Linked DNA regions of Homo sapiens. The protein of the gene in region 4 interacts with the protein of the main gene of each other region in a pairwise test. Each region holds a gene or a part of one and is shown on either strand. Other genes may lie near its edges.

Region 1 (4,351 bases), on a different chromosome or scaffold from region 4:
TACTGCTCCCTGGCTGTGATTACTGATGACACAGTATAGCTGCTTATAATTCTGTAAACCAGGCCCCTCCTTGCTGCAGGAGTACCATCTCTTCTCAAGCCTGCCGACTCCCATGCCCTTGTTGATAGTAGAGCTGTAGAGCCATATGGAATTGACATCCCTCAGATGGTGATTCTAATGATGCTAATCAGGAATGAGTGTCAGTCACTGGAATCACAAAGTTCTCATCCACCTCCCCTCCCAACACACACACACACACACCCCTTTGTGCTTGCTGGTCCCTCTGCCTGGGTTGCTTGCTCCTGTGCCCCCACTGAGGAGCTCCAGATCACCCTTCAAAGTACAGGGCATCATCACCTCCTCCCTGAGGCTTGCCCCAAGCCCGACGTTGCTCTTTTACTCTCCCTTTATCCTAGATCCTCAGGCCCCCTTGCCCTATGACTTTGGGCTCTGAATCTCCGCTTCCTCCTTGGTAGAATGTTACTAACAGCATCTGCCTCACAGGGTGGTTGCTGGAATGAAACAAGATAGTCCTCTGAGAGTGTCTCGCACAGTGTGAGTGTATGGAAACATTAGCTCTTCCTGTCATCATCACCATCATCATTTTTATTATTTCTTTTTTTTTTTTTTTTTTGAGACAGAGTCTCAAAAAAGGCTGGAATGCAGTGGCACAGCCTCAGCTCACTGCAACCTCTGCCCCCCAGGTTCAAGTGATTCTCCTGCCTCAGCCTCCCGAGTAGCTGGGATTAGAGGTGCACACCACCATGCCCGGCTAATTTTTGTATTTTTAGTAGAGATGGGGTTTCACCATGTTAGCCAAGCTGGTCTTGAACTCCTGACCTCAAGTGATCCAGCCACCTTAGCCTCCCAAAGTGCTGGGATTGCAGGTGTGAGCCACCACGCTTGGCTTATTTTTATTATTTCTACCCTCATTATACTAATATGCCACCGTCCCACTCTGTTAGTGGTTGTGCATGTCTGTCTCCACAGCTAGGCTGAACCTCTTGAGAGCAGGAACTGTGCCTTATTTCTCCAGACCCTCAGCACCTAGCACGGTGCCTGGCACATAGCAGGAAGGAGGAAGGGAGAAAAGGAAAGTAACATTTTGTGAGCAAACACCATAATAACTCTGCCAGGTATTCTGCTAGCGTCCTGGGTATTAATCTCATGGTGACCCTGTGCGGTTTTGCTATTTTTTTCCCATTTCACCAAAAGTCAGTCTAAGAGAAAGCATCGCTTTCCAGGGTTCCACAGCCACTCAAGGTCAGAATCCAGACCCAGGTCTTCTTTTGTACCCTCACCACACTGCCTCGAGCTGCCCAGTGCTTCTTTTGAATTGATGTCTGTCCCACCCTCCAAGAGCCACAACTCTTATTCTACCCTCAGATAAGGACATGTACATGGGTCTCACACTTGCAGGCCCCTCCCCTCATCGATGAGTAGGGGAGCTTCCCAAGGGCAGCACCCGTAGCTGAGAGGATTCCAGATCCTTTGTACCAGCTGGTGTTGTCACAGCCCTCTTCTTTCAAGGATTTCAAACCCTTTCCAGATATTCTCTGCAGACAAATCTTACTGGATCTGTTTTGTTTTTTGTTTTTTGTTTTTTATGAGACAGAGTCTCACTCTGTCGCCCAGGCGGGAGTGCAGTGGCGCGATCTCGGCTCACTGCAAGCTCCACCTCCCGGGTTCACGCCATTCTCCTGCCTCAGCCTCCCAAGTAGCTGGGACTACAGGCACCCGCCACCACACCTGGCTAATTTTTTGTATTTTTAGTAGAGACGGGGTTTCACCGTGTTAGCCAGGATGGTCTCGATCTCCTGACCTCATGAACCACCCACCTCGGCCTCCCAAAGTGCTGGGATTACAGGCGTGAGCCACTGCACCCGGCCTACTGGCTCTGTTTTATAGACAGATATCAAGAAACCCATTTTCCATTTCTGGCTGTCAGCTTACCCCTAAGCACTTGGAGTCCAAATCCTAGCTGATTGCCAACAGTAAGTTGCAAACAACAGAGATGGTAAATATGGGCAGTCCCTGGGGATGAGCCTCAGTGGTTGGGGTGGTGGGAGCTGGGTGTGAGGGGAGAAGAGCCCAGAGCCTGAAGACTGAGCCCTGGAGGGGAAAAGTGAAAAAGTCAGAGAGAGCTGTCTTTGAATCCACAAAAGCCAAGCCGGGGGAGCCACAGGAAGGAATCACAGAAGTGAGAGACCACTTCAGGCCCTTGGGGGCCAGTTGGGGAATGATGGGCTGGAAAGTGGACACTTAAGCGATGTTGAGGAGACACCAGGCTGGGAGGCGGGACACCTGGTTCCAGCTCTGGTTCTGCTCCTAACTATGTCACGGTCCCTCTCCATTGCCCATCTCCCCTATTGGCAACACAGAGGTGCTGTCATTCTCCCTCTGCTTCCCAGAGGATTGGTAAGGAACGACAGAGGTCATATATAGGGACAGGGAAGGGTTGATGCCAGAGGGAAGAAAGAAACTGATGGCGGGCCAGGCACGGTGGCTCACGCCTGTAATCCCAGCACGTTGGGAGGCCGAGGCGGGTGGATCACGAGGTCAAGAAATTGAGACCATCCTGGCCAACATGGTGAAACCCTGTCTCTACTAAAAATACAAAAATTAGCTGGACGTGGTGGCACACGCCTGTAGTCCCAGCAACTTGGGAGGCTGAGGCAGGAAAATTACTTGAACCTGGGAGGCGAAGGTTGCAGTGAGCCAAGATCACGCCGCTGCACTCTAGCCTGGTGACAGAGTGAGACTCAATCTCAAAAAAAAAAAAAAAACTGATGGGTGCTGGGGAGGACTGATAGAACTGAATGTGCAGGGCTCCAAGGGCATGGTGTGTGGTTACAGGAATAAGCAGTTCGGTTTCAGTATAAATAGCTATCCCCAGAGCCTTGCAAAGATGGAACTGGCTGCCTTGTTCAGTAGTGAGCTCCCCACCACTGGAGCTGTGAAGGCAGAAGCCGGGGTGGGGAGGGCGACTATAAAGAGGATTCCTGTGTTGGTTAGCAGACTAGACCAGGGTCAGTGAGCTTTTTCTATAAAGGGCCAGATAGTAAATACTTGTGGCTTCGTGAACCAGATGGTCTCTGCTGCAACTACCCAGTTCTGCCATTATAGCACAAAAGCAGCTACATAGGCCATAGGTAAATGAATGAGAATGACTGTGCATAAATAAAAATATTTATGGGCAATGAAATTTGAATTTCACGTAATTTTCACATATCATGAAATATTATTCTTCTTCAGCTTTTTTTTTTCCCAACTATTTAAAAATATAAAGACCATCTGTAGCTCGAGTACCATACAAAACAGACTGAATTTGGCATATGGGTTCATAGTTTGCTGACTTCTGAATCGGAGCAGCTGGCCAGAGGCAGAATGATGGAGCACACTGTTCCTCAAAGTGGGGTACCAGAGCACCCACACTGGGGATGCTTGAGGGTGCTTATCCCCACAGTGTGCCCATGTGAGCCCTAATATCTTGAAGCTTCTGTTTCCTGATCCGTAAGTACAGGACCCACATTAGATCCCCAAGTTTCTGTCTTGAGGATGACAGAGCTTTGTCTAGAAAGGGCTTTGTATCAGCTGTACACATATTAGTAGAGCCCAGGGTGAGCTTGAGTCAGACTGAATGGTCTGAGTCCTGGTTCAGTCCTCAACAGCTTTGTTACCAGGAGCAAGTTACTTAACCTCTCTGTTCTTCAATGTCCTCGTCTGTACAATGAGGATAATAATAGCACCTATCAGATAGGGCTGTCGTGTTGTTGTGCTATAAAGCACTTCCTGCCAGACAGGAAGTCTCTGTAATTATTAGCTGTTGTGATTTTTCACTGGTGTTATCATTCCTGGGACCCAGTCTAAGTTAGTAGCCAAGCTAAGTGCCAGCCCAAGATTCTGACTCCAGTGCAGCCTTTGTGATGGTCTTTGTGTCCCTGGCAAATGAGCGGTCACTGGCTGGGTGGCCACCACATTCACAGACAGGTCAGGTTTCAGGCTGTGGGGAGGAGCAGATTCTTACTTGGAAATTAAGGCCTTTGCCTTCCCCTATGGATAGAACTGGTGAATAGGTTTTATTCCCTTAGTGAGCTCAAAGAAATAAGAGTATAGTCCCAGACTTCCACTCTTCTGGTTTTAGAAAAAAAAAAACCCAAACCCTCAGTGTCTCCTAATTAGCTTGAGGCCATCACCCCATGAGAAGCAGGGGGATTCAGGACAGTTTAACTCTTTACTGCCTTACTAAGGAGATCTTGATCTAGGCCAGTGCCCTCCAAACTTCTGTCTTTCATGTAGCTCATTTGTGATTTGTGTCTACCCCCATGCCACCTTCATTATTATTTTCGTA
Region 2 (4,830 bases), on a different chromosome or scaffold from region 4:
GGGCCACACTCAGCTAGGGATTGCCAGGAGAGGACGGTTGGCATTTACAGCCTGGAACTAACGGCAGTTGATTGGATAAGTCCCCCCAGACCCCCTTTGGATGGTGGAGGAGCCCCCGTGTGCTCAGAAGCTGCCCTGGGAATCCCTGAGGGATGGTGCTGGAGCCAAGCTCCTTGGAGGACCAATGTTCTCCCTATCTGGTTTGGAAGCAGAGTAGGCTTCTGGGGACTTAGTCACTTTAGGATTCTTGGATCAGTGTGGGCAAAAGAGGCTCTGGAAGGGCCGATTCAACTTCCGGCCGAGGCGGCAGAGCATCCTCTGGGGAGGAATGCAGGTGGGAGGCGGGCACCCGAGCCAAGGGCAGCCCAGAGCTGCCCCCCGGCAGCAGCGCCCCTCCCGCCCCCCAACTTAAGGTCGCACCCTGGGCCTCCCAAGCTTGGTCTCCTGCCCGCCAGCCCAGAGCATGCACCAGGACCAGCTTTGCAGGGCCCGGTGCGAAATGAAAACATCGCCCTTTGGCCAAAAGTAACCACGAATTTCCAGAAGGCGAGAGCTGAGCGAGAAGTGAGCACAGGGCCCTGGGGACTCCCCAGGTGGCTAGATGTGAAGTGGCCTCGCTGGGTCCCCTCCGGCCTCTCCCAGGCCCCTCTCACCAACCCATCTCTCGGCCATCACAGCTGTGGTTCCTACCTCTGCCCCACCCAGCCTCGGGCCCTGCGAGCCTCCGGGCCTCCCACACTGCCTGGGACAGGCAGGACTTCCTGTTTTACCCGCTACTGTTCAGAAGGCACAGAGGGACCCTGAGGAACGTGAGCTTTCTGAGATGGAGGCCAAGGACCACGGGGAGCGCAGTGAACACCGGGAATGGGGCTGGTGGCCCAGCATGCATTGTGGAAAGGCACGTGACTGCCCGGGACCATTGGCAGCTCCCCTTCCTGGTGATTGGCTTAGGGAAGAACATGTGACCCAACAGGCCGGAAGTCCCCTGTGGAGTGGCTGGACGCCCCCGGGGAAGCCTCCCCCTAGCGGGGGCAGAAGGGAAGCCGCGTTTTTTGCTTGCGTTGCCTTTTGATGGCGCTGGATCGCTGTTGCTGCGCTTTTTTTTTTTTTGAGAAGGAGTCTTGCTCTGTCGCCCAGGCTGGAGTGCAGTGGCGCGATTTCGGCTCACTGCAACCTCCACCTCCCGGGTTCAAGCGATTCTCCTGCCTCAGCCTCCCAAGTAGCTGGGAATATAGGCACGCGCCACCACGCCAGGCTACTTTTTGTATTTTTGGTAGAGACGGGGTTTCACCATGTTGGTCAGGCTGGTCTCCAACTCCTGACCTTGTGATCCACCTGCCTCGGCCTCCCAAGCTGCGCTCTTTTTATTGAACGCAGGCCCTCGCGGTGGCTCAGAGCCCCCGGTAGTGCCCTCGGAAGCCGCATGTGCTGGAGGCACGTTGGAGGCAAGGATCCTGCAGCCGCGACTTGAATCGCATGGGTCACGGAGGCCACGCTGGAGCCCCCAGAGCTGGCTCGGATTGCGAGTTCTGATGGAGTTGCTTTTTCCAGGAGCGCTGCCAGCGCTGAGCGTTCACCTGGTGATCAGGCGCATCCCGGGAAGCAGGCCGAAGCCACCACGCCCTTGCAGGGCCACACCGGCCAACCAGCTGTTATCTGCATGGATGAGGAACGCATTTAAAGAACAGCAGTGTTTTCAAATAATGCTGGATAAGGCTTTGTTTTTTAAAGGTAGTGGAAGTTTTAAGGGTGCCCCGGGGTAATTTCTGTAGTCAGGGTTCCCTCCGGGTTAGGGTCTACACGGCCATGGCGGGCTGCACGGTGCACGCTTTATCACTGAGACCTGACTCCTAAGTTACTGTTAACAAGAGTCCCTGGGGCCAGTCAGCTTACACACAGGCCTAATATAGCAGAAAGAATGATGCAGGCCGTTAAAACAGCCTTTGGAAAGAGGTTTTCAATTTTTCAATCACAAAGCAAATCAAGCTTCCTAATTAGCTACAACACGGCTGGAAAGCTCAGCTCCTACTAGGCTGCAAGCCCTTGCTGTCTGCTTTCTTGCATGACCGTCTCTGTTACAGGAAAGGTTTGGCTGCTTTCTAATCTCACTCATGTTCAAAGAACTCGTGGCAGGCAGTAGTAACCATGGCAACAAAGGCCATGAATTCCTGGAAGTCACATTCGCCGTCTCCATCATTGTCCAGTGTTTCCATGACTTTGTCCACAACCTCCTGCTCTTTGATTTCCTAAGAGAGATAAAAGGAGTTGCCGACCTTGTTTTTAAATGGAATTTTGGACCATCAAAACATGATTAAAAGTTGAGTGACTCTGATAATTTGTGTCCGAAATAACCTAAGAACATCAAATGCAAAATATCAGAAAAGATGTCTCATGTGACCAGGGGGCTGTTGTCCAAGCAGAAATCTCTGGGGGTCAGTGTCTGGCCCTGAGCTACTGGAAAAGGCTGAATGGAACAGCCAAGAGGTGAAAAACTGAAGGTTGTTATCATACTTAAAATACCTGAAAAAAAAAAATACCATCTAGATCAGCCTGAGCAAATGTCTTGAAATAAAAATAAACTTTTGGCCCTCCTAAACTTTTCGTGTGTTCTGTGTGTGGAAGTCCCTGTCTCAAAGGCTTCCAGTGGAATTTAATGTTTTGAAAGTCTTCTTTGTTGCTGAAGTAACTCTTGGGAACGTGGCCTACATTTGTTAACCCTGTATTCTTTTTCCCACTTGAATTGCTTTCTAGGTGTCATGAAACTTTTTCCTGACAGTTCTGCCTGACATTGAAGCCAAATGAATGGTGTGGCTGTTAAGTGATGTGCACAGCCTCAGAGGAACAACCACAGTGCAGGGCTACAAACGTGGTGGGAAAAATTTGGGTATTGAACACTGATGAAGAGCATAAATGCAGAGTAACAATTCTCCGGGATAGGAAGGCTTGGCCTGAAGAAGTCAAGTGTAATGTACAACAGCTGCCTTGGCTATAAGACACACAGGGGTCAGGCACGGTGGCTCACACCTGTAATCCCAGCACTTTGGGAAGCTAAGGCAGGAGGATAACTTGAGCACAGGAAGTTTGAGACCAGCCTGGGCAACATAGGGAGACTCCATCTCTACAAAGAAAAAATAAAACAATTAGCTGGGCATGGTCCATGTGCCCGTATTCCCAGCTACTCAGGAGGCTGAGGCGGAGGATCGCTTGAGCCTGGGAGGTTGAGGCTGCAATGAGCCAAGATTGCACCACTGCACTCCAACCTGGGTGACTGAGCAAGACCTTATCTCAAAAACTAAAAAAGTAAACAAAACATACAGAAGATTGTAACTCCACGGGGGTAGAGGTGGGGAGGCACCTGTGGATGGGCAGGAGCAGGGCACTAACTTCAATTATATTATACATCTGCTTCCGAACTGAAATTACCTTGATAAAACAGGGCAGCAAATGTTTGTGATGCCTTGAAATGCTTACCATGAATTATTTATCATTTACAAATTGAAATTCCCAAGTGCAAAGCTTTTTCTATGTATAAAAATAATAATAGTAGCTACTATTAGTTGAGCTTTCACTATATGTTAAGCACTTAAGCACTGTCCCGCTTCACCCTCACAACAGCCCTTGTTCAGAAGAAGAACCTGGGACTCTCAGATCAAGTCAGAAGGCAAGATTGGTGGAACTAGAAAACTGCATGTGTGAGTGGGACTGCTGTCACTCTGTCGGCTTGAATGCCTGAGAAAACCAGTCCTGGAATCAGATGTGGGGACACCCTCTGCAAAGTTTCAGGCCTGTCTGCTCCACTCTGAACCATTCACGGTGGGGCAGTGTTTGGTGGGAGTGGGGACAGGAGAACCAGCCAGCGCCCCCTCCCCCTGCCCTGAAAACACGGACTGCCGTGCTGCTGGAGCCAGGGCTTGCCGTCTTGCACTGAGAGGCTTGGCCAGCTCAGGAGGGCAGCTCCCCGTCCCCATGCAGCAGAGCCCTGCCCTGGTATTTATCCTGGAATAGGGCTTGGTGAGACACTAGTGCGCTGGCTCATTGTCTGGTCATTTATCCCGTTTGTGATTGCTCATATCAGTGACCCAGGAAGCCCTTCACTACGTTTCATATGTGCACACCACTGGTGCTTCACTCTGGCTCAAGGCGTGCCTCAAGCCAGCCTTGGTTCTAAGAGAGCATCAGGTACCAGGGGGATCACAGTTCACTTCCATGAGGGCATGAGGTGGGCAGTAAAGACAGGTGGGTCTGATCCAAGGACAGTGGAGACGGTGGGTAGGAAAATGAGCCCTAATGCAAGGGTCTGGACATACTTCCACCACAAGCCACAGCGGGAACTGCCTGAAGAACAGGGCTTGCCAGGAGCCCCCACACAGCTTCCTAAAGTAGGGGCCCCAACTAAAGACAGTTCCTCACCAATATCCGTTACTCCACAGAGCCTCCTGCAAAGCCCCAGGGCTTCCAAAGGATGTGTACAGACCCCTGTCACGTCCTCAGTTAAGCCAGTCATGGTCATTCATCCATGTGCCAGGCTGGGTGCCCCAGAGCAGAAGCCATGTCTGTCGTGCCTGCATATCTCACAGTTCTTAATTAGTGCTCAGTCAGTGTTTACTGAGTGAAAGTCTGGCATATCTTATCTCCATAGCAAATACTAAACTTCTAGCTAAAGCCAAAATATATCCTTTTCCTAAAAACATTCCCAAAGCTTATTTTTAACAGTTTCCTTTTATGTTCCCTTTGGTCCATGGTAAGTAATGAGTCTAGCATTATTTGGGACGCTTTGGCCTTTGGGACCTTGATGCACCTACTGTACACAAGATGGTTGATAAGGAAATG
Region 3 (4,351 bases), on a different chromosome or scaffold from region 4:
TGGGGTCTCAATTCTGTCACTTCTCTGAGCCTCTGTTTCCTCATCTGTAAAGTGGGGATGATAACGTTCACCTCAGAGGGTTGTTAGGATATTAAAGATAATACACGTAAAGTTCCTCAGGCAGTGGACAGTCAGTAGGGAGAGGCTGGCTGGGATAAGTGAGCCAGACAGAAAGAGACTCAGGCTGGGAGGCAGGTGAGGAGGCTCCAGACTCTAGAAGAGGGGACTTGGGCCTCATCTGAAATGAAGGCAGGATTCAGATGAGAGGAGGAAAGCTGTCCATTGTGGATAGATGGAGTCGCTGGGACCTACTTTTTTGTGATGAATTGGAAGTGAACTAAGGGGAGGCAGACCCAGAATATATGTGCTGAGGACCAGTGGAAAGGTGGTGACCCAGGCCTGGGCCAACAGGTCAGAAAGAAGGCTCTAGACTAGAGCAAATAGAGTTCACGTTTCATCAACGGACGCCACTGGGCACCGTGCGCTTGTGTGCATGACATGGTTCTGGGTTCCACAGGGAAATGAAGAACATGTTTGGAAGGAAGGGAAGAAAGGAGTGTGGGAGATTTACTGCGTGCCTAGTGCTTCGTATGTACCTGAGTACAGGGTACTGGGACAATGGTACAAAGCACCCTAGAGCAGGGGCTCCCCAAAACTGATCCTCGGGCTAGTGCTAGGCAGAATTCCAGAAGAGAGGAAACTATATAATTTTTTAATATTGGAAAAGTAATTTGATTTGGACCACAGGGAAGACTACAAAGAAAAAGTAATTTAAGTGATGGTGGTATTGTTACTGCACGTTCAGGCTTTAGAGAAACTTCCATCTTTCTCAGCTTTCTTTCCTGGTGCCTTTTAATGCCTGAAGAGTGAGGTGTGAGTGTGTGTTTTCACTCAGGTGTGGTCAGAGAACAAAGCAGTGCTGTTCTTTCTGAGTCTTTCTGAGATATTTCTGGGTGAGAATGATCCCTCCCTTTGCAGGATCTCCTGTGTAACCAGTTTTCAAGTTTTTGATGATCTATCACTTAGATTCATATTTAAAGAGCATTCTACACAAACCAGATCTATTTTCCCTGTTAGCTGGTATGGTCTATAGAGAATTGTTTAAATAGACAAGTCAGACATGGCGGTAGATGGAATGTTCTGAGTGAGGACAAGGAGATTCCAGTGTGTCAGGGGAAGGATCTGTTCCACTGCAGCTGAGTCCCACTTGGGATGTGGTGAAGCGAGCAATGGCAGAACTGAGGACAGGGTTTGAGTGACCTAACCGGTGACAGTGGGTGGACATGAGGCCGAAGAGCTGAGCTCTGCAGCTGTCTCAGGAGACAGGTAGGATGAGACCTCTGGGAGCAGTGGTCAGTGCTGGAGGGCTGCTGACAAGGGCCAGGAGCCCGGGACCTTCAGGGACAGGCTCCTTTCCACCAAGACCATCTCCAAGTGATCTGTGCTTGGCCCAGGGAAGGGAGAAAAACAGAACCCTAGACCCTAACATTGCAAGTTACCTTACTCTTCTACCTCAGTTTTCCACCTAATGCACAATAAACATGGTCTAAGGAGGACAGTTCCTCACTACTGAAATCTAATGCTACAGCAAGATACATTTCTGCAAAGAGGGATAAGAGGGAACTTCAGTCCTAAGGCCTCAGTCAATAAGAGATTCTCTGTCCCATCTTCTTTCTTGTGTCACCACCCAGGGTTATAACTAGGCTAGAAGTCTTTAGTCAGGGTGTCCTCTCTTCAGCCAAAGCAGACGTGATTTTTATGCTCCCCTTAGAAAGTACAACACTTGGGTTCAAAGAGTCATTCAAAAGATGTCCCATTTTCTCACTCATTATAGACCAAGCCAAAAGTGTTTTCTTAACAGTGCAGAGGAGAGAGATGGGGCTTAGAGATAAGAAAGGAGTTCTTGAAAGCAAAGGGTTGGAAATTTTGGCCTAAAGGGACATTGGGAGTTATTTTCCCCTGCCAGGCCTGAGTCACAATCAATGGTCATCGTGGCGTAGCAGAAAGAACATGGGCTTTGGAGTCAGACTTAGGTTCATATCCTAGCTCTGCTTATTAGCTGTGGGACACTGGGTGAGTTGACTTAACCTCTCTGATCCTCAGTTTCCTCAGCTGCAGCATTATGTGAGAATATTGCCCCAATGTGATAAACAAATGGAATAAAGCCCATGAAAAGCTCCTGGTGCCACCGCATGGGGCATTATGGGGACAACATCATTTCCCTTCCCCTTCTGTTCCCATGGTTACCTCCCTCCCACCTGAACCATGTGGGCATACCAGGAGGCAGGCAGATAAATTCATTCAATACTTCTTTATTGAGAGCTTATTATGTGTTGGGCACGAGAAATTTAGAACAAAATAGATCTCATCTTTCCCCTCATGGGATTTTTCTGTCCAGCGAAGGTGACAGAGAAAACAATTCACAGAGAAAACAAACCTTAAATTACAAATTGTAGTCGATCTGTGAAGGAATTGAAACATCTCCGGGGTGCAGGAGTCGGTTCTGTCTGGGTAGGTGAGCAGGGAAGACCTCTCTGGAAAGGAGGTGGCCAGGCAGGGAAGTGGGGGAAGCAGTCCAAGCAGAGGGAACAAGCATACGCCAAGGCCCTGAGGCTGGAGAGCGTTCGGCCTGTGGGAAGAACTGAAAGGAGGACTTTGTAGCCAGGAAGACTGGTAGGAGAGGAGATTGGGCTTTGATAAGTCAAAGTAAGGAGTTTGGATTTAGGTTTGGTTTGGGGTACAAGAAACTACTGAGCAAGCAAGCAACATATCTAATTTATAAAGATATTTCTCGCCCCTGCTGCTAGGAGAGTTCATACTCCTCCATCACAGCCCAGTGTGGGCAGCCCAGGCCTGTCTCAGGGAGGCACCCCTGCCCCACAGGCCTGAGCAGAGGGGGTGAGAGAATCCAGGCTATGTGGAGAGATGAGCTTTCAGAGGTGGTGGGTGCGAAAGGCCAGCCTCCCACCCTAAGATTTAGTACCACCCACTCAAGCAGATGCTTCCATCTCCTGTCATCTGGGAGCTCCTTTTTTTTTTTTTTTTTTTGAGATGGAGTCTCGCTCTGTCACCCAGCCTGGAGTGCAGTGGTGCAATCTTGGCTCACTGCAACCTCCGCCTCCCGAGTTCAAGTGATTCTCCTGCCTCAGCCTCCTAAGTAGCTGGGATTACAGGGGCATACCACTACGCCCAGCTAATTTTTGTATTTTAATAGAGACAGGGTTTTGCCATGTTAGCGAGGCTGGTCTCAAACTCCTGATCTCAGGTGATCTGCCCACCTCGGCCTCCCAAAGTGCTGGGATTATAGGCGTGAGCCACCGCACCCAGCCCTAGCTGGGAACTCCTTGCACTGAGGTAGGGAGAAAGCAAGGGTGCCCTTTTGGAGCAGGTGGGCTGAACTTCTGTAGCAACTAAAGCCCAAGCTGTGAGTCAAGCCTCCCAAGTTATTCTCACCTTTAATGAAATGCTCAGTCTGATTTTATAGGGAAGGAGGTACTGTCAGATCTAGGCCAGAAATCTGCATTCTGTACCCCCTGCTCAGGCCAGAAATCCCAAGGGCTGGGCCCAGCATGTCCCCTCTGTGGTGGGACGGACAGACTGCCCCGGTCTTCCAGAACCCTTGGGATACCCACAGAAAGAGGTAACGCTGCTCTGGCCCTCTTCTGAGGACGAGTCAGTGGAGAGCATGCAGCTTCCAGCTGCAGCCTCTCTATGAAGGGCTGAGGCCCTGGGCCGGGAGGCTGGAGGAGAGAGGGACCCAGTGACCCCCCAAGCTTCCACCTTGCTCTGTTACCCGTTCTTGGGCTGAAGAGAGACCCAAAAATACAGTGTAGAGATTCACACTGAGGTAACTCAGGGAGTGGAATTCAGGGCCTCCCGCTGGGATTGAGGTGCTAATGACACAACTCCTGAACCTGACCTTAGAGTGCCAGCCATTGACGTCAACAAAGTTGAAATGATGTAACCTGACGCTCCCCCTGCGGGGCTTGTGCAGGGGCCTGGGGAGGGGGAAGGAGTGGCCATGAAACTGACTAGTGGACAGAACCCAGCTAAGGTCAGGACAAGACAGAGTGAAGGTCCCCTGGCACTGATGTTACAGAAGAATTCGGTGGTAAGGGGCTTCTGGAGAGTGGCATGTGCTATCTAAGCGAGTGGCCCAAATCCTTCCTGAAAGCATTTATCCGGCACTACAGCCACCATCAGGTAAGACAGTGGGCTTCTTCTGGCCATGGATGACACAGCCATGGGGGTGAGCAGCAGCACTGCCATGGCAGCGTGTCACTGTCACATGGGGATTCACATATGTACCTATGTGTGTTCATCCCCGTGTGTGCACATATTGCCCCACCTG
Region 4 (4,517 bases):
ATTTTTGAGAGAGTCTTTTTTTTTGTTTTTGTTTTTGTTTTTGAGATGGAGTTTCACTCTTGTTGCCCAGGCTGGAGTGCAGTGACGCAATCTTGGCTCACTGCAACTTCCGCCTCCTGGGTTCAAGTGATTCTCATGCCTCAGCCTCCCGAGTAACTGGGATTACAGGCATGCACCACCACGCCCGGCTAATTTTGTATTTTTAGTAGAAATGTGGTTTCTCCACGTCAGTCAGGCTGGTCTCGAACTCCCGACCTCAGGTGATCCGCGCGTCTCGGCCTCCCAAAGTGCTGGGATTACAGGCGTGGGCCACCGTGCCCGGCTGAGACAGAATCTTGCACTGTCATCCAAGCTGGAGTGCAGTGGCACAATCTTGGGTCACTGCAACCTCCCCCTCCCGGTTCAAGCAATTCTCCTGCCTCAGCCTCCTTAGTAGCTGGGATTACAGGTGCCCGCCAACACACCTGGCTAATTTTTGTACTTTTAGTAGAGACGGGGTTTCACCATGTTTGCCAGGCTGGTCTCGAACCCCTGGCCTCAAGTGATCCACCCGCCGCAGACTCCCAGAGTGCTGGGATTTCAGGTGTGAGCCACTATGCCCGGCCTAATACGTGGATTTTTAAAGCTTCAGGTTCTGGTTCAGAAGTTTCCTGGGTCTCATTAAAATAATGAGGCACTCAGAATTGGTCTAATAAAAATAACGACCATTTCTTTCTACTCCAGTCTCTTTCACAAACTTCTTAGTGAAAATGACAAGTGAGGCCCTTCAGTAGGGGCATTTTCAGTGGAGATAATAGCGGCAGACCTGAGACCTTGGGCTAGGTAGTTTATTCTCATTTCTGAACAGATGATGAATTTTCTCAGATGACCCTAAGAAATTGTTTTACCAAAAACAAAGTGATCTATTTGCTTTGGGAGGAACTCCCTTCCTTTTGTTTCTCTTCCCTTCCCCCCTTCCCCTGCGGTTGTAGAGCCCGTTCTGTCCGGTCGTGGTTCTGTCCAGCCATGATCCGGGAGTCCTAGCTTGCTAATGGAACACCTGAGATGTTCCTTATGGCTCAAGGCTTGAATTGAAGGTGGGAACCACCTGAAGCCTCCGTGGGGAGGCCTTGCCTGAGGTTAGGTGTCTGGCATGAGTGCCGCCGGCTGGGTGTGATTTAGGTGAAGGACATCTGTAAAGGAGCGTGTCACAACCTCTGTTCCTTCTTCACATCTAGTGGTATCCTGAGGTGCGGCACCACTGTCCCAACACTCCCATCATCCTAGTGGGAACTAAACTTGATCTTAGGGATGATAAAGACACGATCGAGAAACTGAAGGAGAAGAAGCTGACTCCCATCACCTATCCGCAGGGTCTAGCCATGGCTAAGGAGATTGGTATGGAATCCTGTGTTTTTCCTCCTCCTTGTACCTCTTTTATTGTAGTGACAGAGACTGGAGTCCAGTCTGGGAAAGGAGGGTGTGTGTCTCCCACTCAGGGCCTGGTGTACTCTTGGGGAACCAGCTGGCAAGGCCCTGTGGGTCTTAACGTCAGCGTTGGAAGGTGGAAGCAGGGCTGGGAGCCGGCAGAAGGCGCCCGGGCCCCAGGAGCTGCCTCCCGCTGGTGGTGTGATCAGAAGAGAGTGGGGTCGAGTGTACATTGCCGTGTGGTCGTGTTTCCTGTAGGTGCTGTAAAATACCTGGAGTGCTCGGCGCTCACACAGCGAGGCCTCAAGACAGTGTTTGACGAAGCGATCCGAGCAGTCCTCTGCCCGCCTCCCGTGAAGAAGAGGAAGAGAAAATGCCTGCTGTTGTAAATGTCTCAGCCCCTCGTTCTTGGTCCTGTCCCTTGGAACCTTTGTACGCTTTGCTCAAAAAAAAACAAAAAAAAAAAACAAAAAAAAAAAACAACGGTGGAGCCTTCGCACTCAATGCCAACTTTTTGTTACAGATTAATTTTTCCATAAAACCATTTTTTGAACCAATCAGTAATTTTAAGGTTTTGTTTGTTCTAAATGTAAGAGTTCAGACTCACATTCTATTAAAATTTAGCCCTAAAATGACAAGCCTTCTTAAAGCCTTATTTTTCAAAAGCGCCCCCCCCATTCTTGTTCAGATTAAGAGTTGCCAAAATACCTTCTGAACTACACTGCATTGTTGTGCCGAGAACACCGAGCACTGAACTTTGCAAAGACCTTCGTCTTTGAGAAGACGGTAGCTTCTGCAGTTAGGAGGTGCAGACACTTGCTCTCCTATGTAGTTCTCAGATGCGTAAAGCAGAACAGCCTCCCGAATGAAGCGTTGCCATTGAACTCACCAGTGAGTTAGCAGCACGTGTTCCCGACATAACATTGTACTGTAATGGAGTGAGCGTAGCAGCTCAGCTCTTTGGATCAGTCTTTGTGATTTCATAGCGAGTTTTCTGACCAGCTTTTGCGGAGATTTTGAACAGAACTGCTATTTCCTCTAATGAAGAATTCTGTTTAGCTGTGGGTGTGCCGGGTGGGGTGTGTGTGATCAAAGGACAAAGACAGTATTTTGACAAAATACGAAGTGGAGATTTACACTACATTGTACAAGGAATGAAAGTGTCACGGGTAAAAACTCTAAAAGGTTAATTTCTGTCAAATGCAGTAGATGATGAAAGAAAGGTTGGTATTATCAGGAAATGTTTTCTTAAGCTTTTCCTTTCTCTTACACCTGCCATGCCTCCCCAAATTGGGCATTTAATTCATCTTTAAACTGGTTGTTCTGTTAGTCGCTAACTTAGTAAGTGCTTTTCTTATAGAACCCCTTCTGACTGAGCAATATGCCTCCTTGTATTATAAAATCTTTCTGATAATGCATTAGAAGGTTTTTTTGTCGATTAGTAAAAGTGCTTTCCATGTTACTTTATTCAGAGCTAATAAGTGCTTTCCTTAGTTTTCTAGTAACTAGGTGTAAAAATCATGTGTTGCAGCTTTATAGTTTTTAAAATATTTTAGATAATTCTTAAACTATGAACCTTCTTAACATCACTGTCTTGCCAGATTACCGACACTGTCACTTGACCAATACTGACCCTCTTTACCTCGCCCACGCGGACACACGCCTCCTGTAGTCGCTTTGCCTATTGATGTTCCTTTGGGTCTGTGAGGTTCTGTAAACTGTGCTAGTGCTGACGATGTTCTGTACAACTTAACTCACTGGCGAGAATACAGCGTGGGACCCTTCAGCCACTACAACAGAATTTTTTAAATTGACAGTTGCAGAATTGTGGAGTGTTTTTACATTGATCTTTTGCTAATGCAATTAGCATTATGTTTTGCATGTATGACTTAATAAATCCTTGAATCATACGACTGGTAATACTGGTGTTTTTGAGACTTGATGAACAAGTTCCTGGTGTGTGTTTGTTTGCCTTGCTTTAAAGTCCTGGGTTGTTGGAGACAGTCATTTTCAATGCGTGTCTCCACACAGGAGGGACAGGGAGTGCCACCTCCAGGGGAGAACTGGGTGAGCCCAAATACGGCAGGAGTGGAGGTGACATTCATGTTTGGACCTGTCGAACAGTGGCGAAGCTCTGAGGGAGAAGCGCCTATCGGGGTGTGTGTGCACATCCTGGCCCAGAGCTAGGGGCTGAAGATGGAGATGTTGGGACCCTAGACTGGCCCTGGAAGAGTAGAGGTTGGTGAACCACATGCCCTTAAGATCCTTTCCAGAGGCTGAGTGCGTGGCTTACGCCTCTAAGCCCGACGCTTTGGGAGGCTGACACAGGAGGAGCGCTTAAGCCCAGGAGTTCTAGACCAGCCTGGACAAGAAAGAGACCTACCCAAAAAAAAAATGCAAGAGCCTGAACTTGTACTACATAAAGGTTCATGTTAGAATTCGTTTTCTTAATATTCCTTTTTATTGCTTTGAAGATTGTTTTTGAGTTTTTGTTTTTTTTTTAAGATGGAGTTTTGCTCTTGTTGCCCAGGCTGGGAGTGCAATGGTGTGATCTCGGCTCACTGCAATCTCTGCCTCTCGGGTTCAAGCGATTCTCCTGCCTCAGACTCCCGAGTAGCTGGGATTACAGGTGCCTCCCCCCACGCCTGGCTAATTTTTTGTATTTTTTCACCATAGTTTCACCATGGCCAGGCTGGTCTTGAACTCCCAACCTTAGGTGATCTGCTCGGCCTCCCAGAGTGCTGGGATTAAAAGCGTGAGCCACCGCCTCCAGCTGAGTATTTTTTTTTTAAACAGATATAAATAATGCAGATTTTGTTTTTTGAGATAAGATCTGGCTCTGTCTCACAGGCTGGAGTGCAGTGGCGTGATCTTGGCTCGCTGCAACCTATGCCTCCTGCACTCAAGCCATCCTCCCACTTCAGCCTCTGGAGTAGCTGGGACCACAGGTGCGCACCACCACACCCAGCTAATTTTGTGTGTATTTTTTGTAGGGTTTTGCCATGTTGGCCAGGCTGGTCTTGAACTCCTGAGCTCAAGCAATCCACCAGCCTCGACCTCCCAAAGTGCTGGGACTCCAGGTGTGAGCCACCAGCCTCGACCTCCCAAAG

What was found.
Region 1: the proteins of RAC1 (region 4) and TOM1 interact in binary tests that used the Homo sapiens proteins (3 or more experiments, as listed by UniProt).
Region 2: the proteins of RAC1 (region 4) and S100B interact in binary tests that used the Homo sapiens proteins (3 or more experiments, as listed by UniProt).
Region 3: the proteins of RAC1 (region 4) and USH1C interact in binary tests that used the Homo sapiens proteins (3 or more experiments, as listed by UniProt).

What each region holds. Positions count from the first base shown.
Region 1 is NC_000022.11:35,302,889-35,307,239, forward strand, and holds part of TOM1 (target of Myb1 membrane trafficking protein), read left to right. Parts: intron 1-4,351.
Region 2 is NC_000021.9:46,597,258-46,602,087, forward strand, and holds the end of S100B (protein S100-B), read right to left. Parts: intron 2,247-4,830; coding exon 2,106-2,246; 3' UTR 1,347-2,105; downstream 1-1,346. UniProt on the Homo sapiens protein: Small zinc- and- and calcium-binding protein that is highly expressed in astrocytes and constitutes one of the most abundant soluble proteins in brain.
Region 3 is NC_000011.10:17,533,571-17,537,921, reverse strand, and holds part of USH1C (harmonin), read left to right. Parts: intron 1-4,036; exon of another isoform or gene 4,037-4,134; coding exon of another isoform or gene 4,135-4,203; intron 4,204-4,351. UniProt on the Homo sapiens protein: Anchoring/scaffolding protein that is a part of the functional network formed by USH1C, USH1G, CDH23 and MYO7A that mediates mechanotransduction in cochlear hair cells. Required for normal development and maintenance of cochlear hair cell bundles.
Region 4 is NC_000007.14:6,400,651-6,405,167, forward strand, and holds the end of RAC1 (ras-related C3 botulinum toxin substrate 1), read left to right. Parts: intron 1-1,217; coding exon 1,218-1,377; intron 1,378-1,665; coding exon 1,666-1,796; 3' UTR 1,797-3,317; downstream 3,318-4,517. UniProt on the Homo sapiens protein: Plasma membrane-associated small GTPase which cycles between active GTP-bound and inactive GDP-bound states.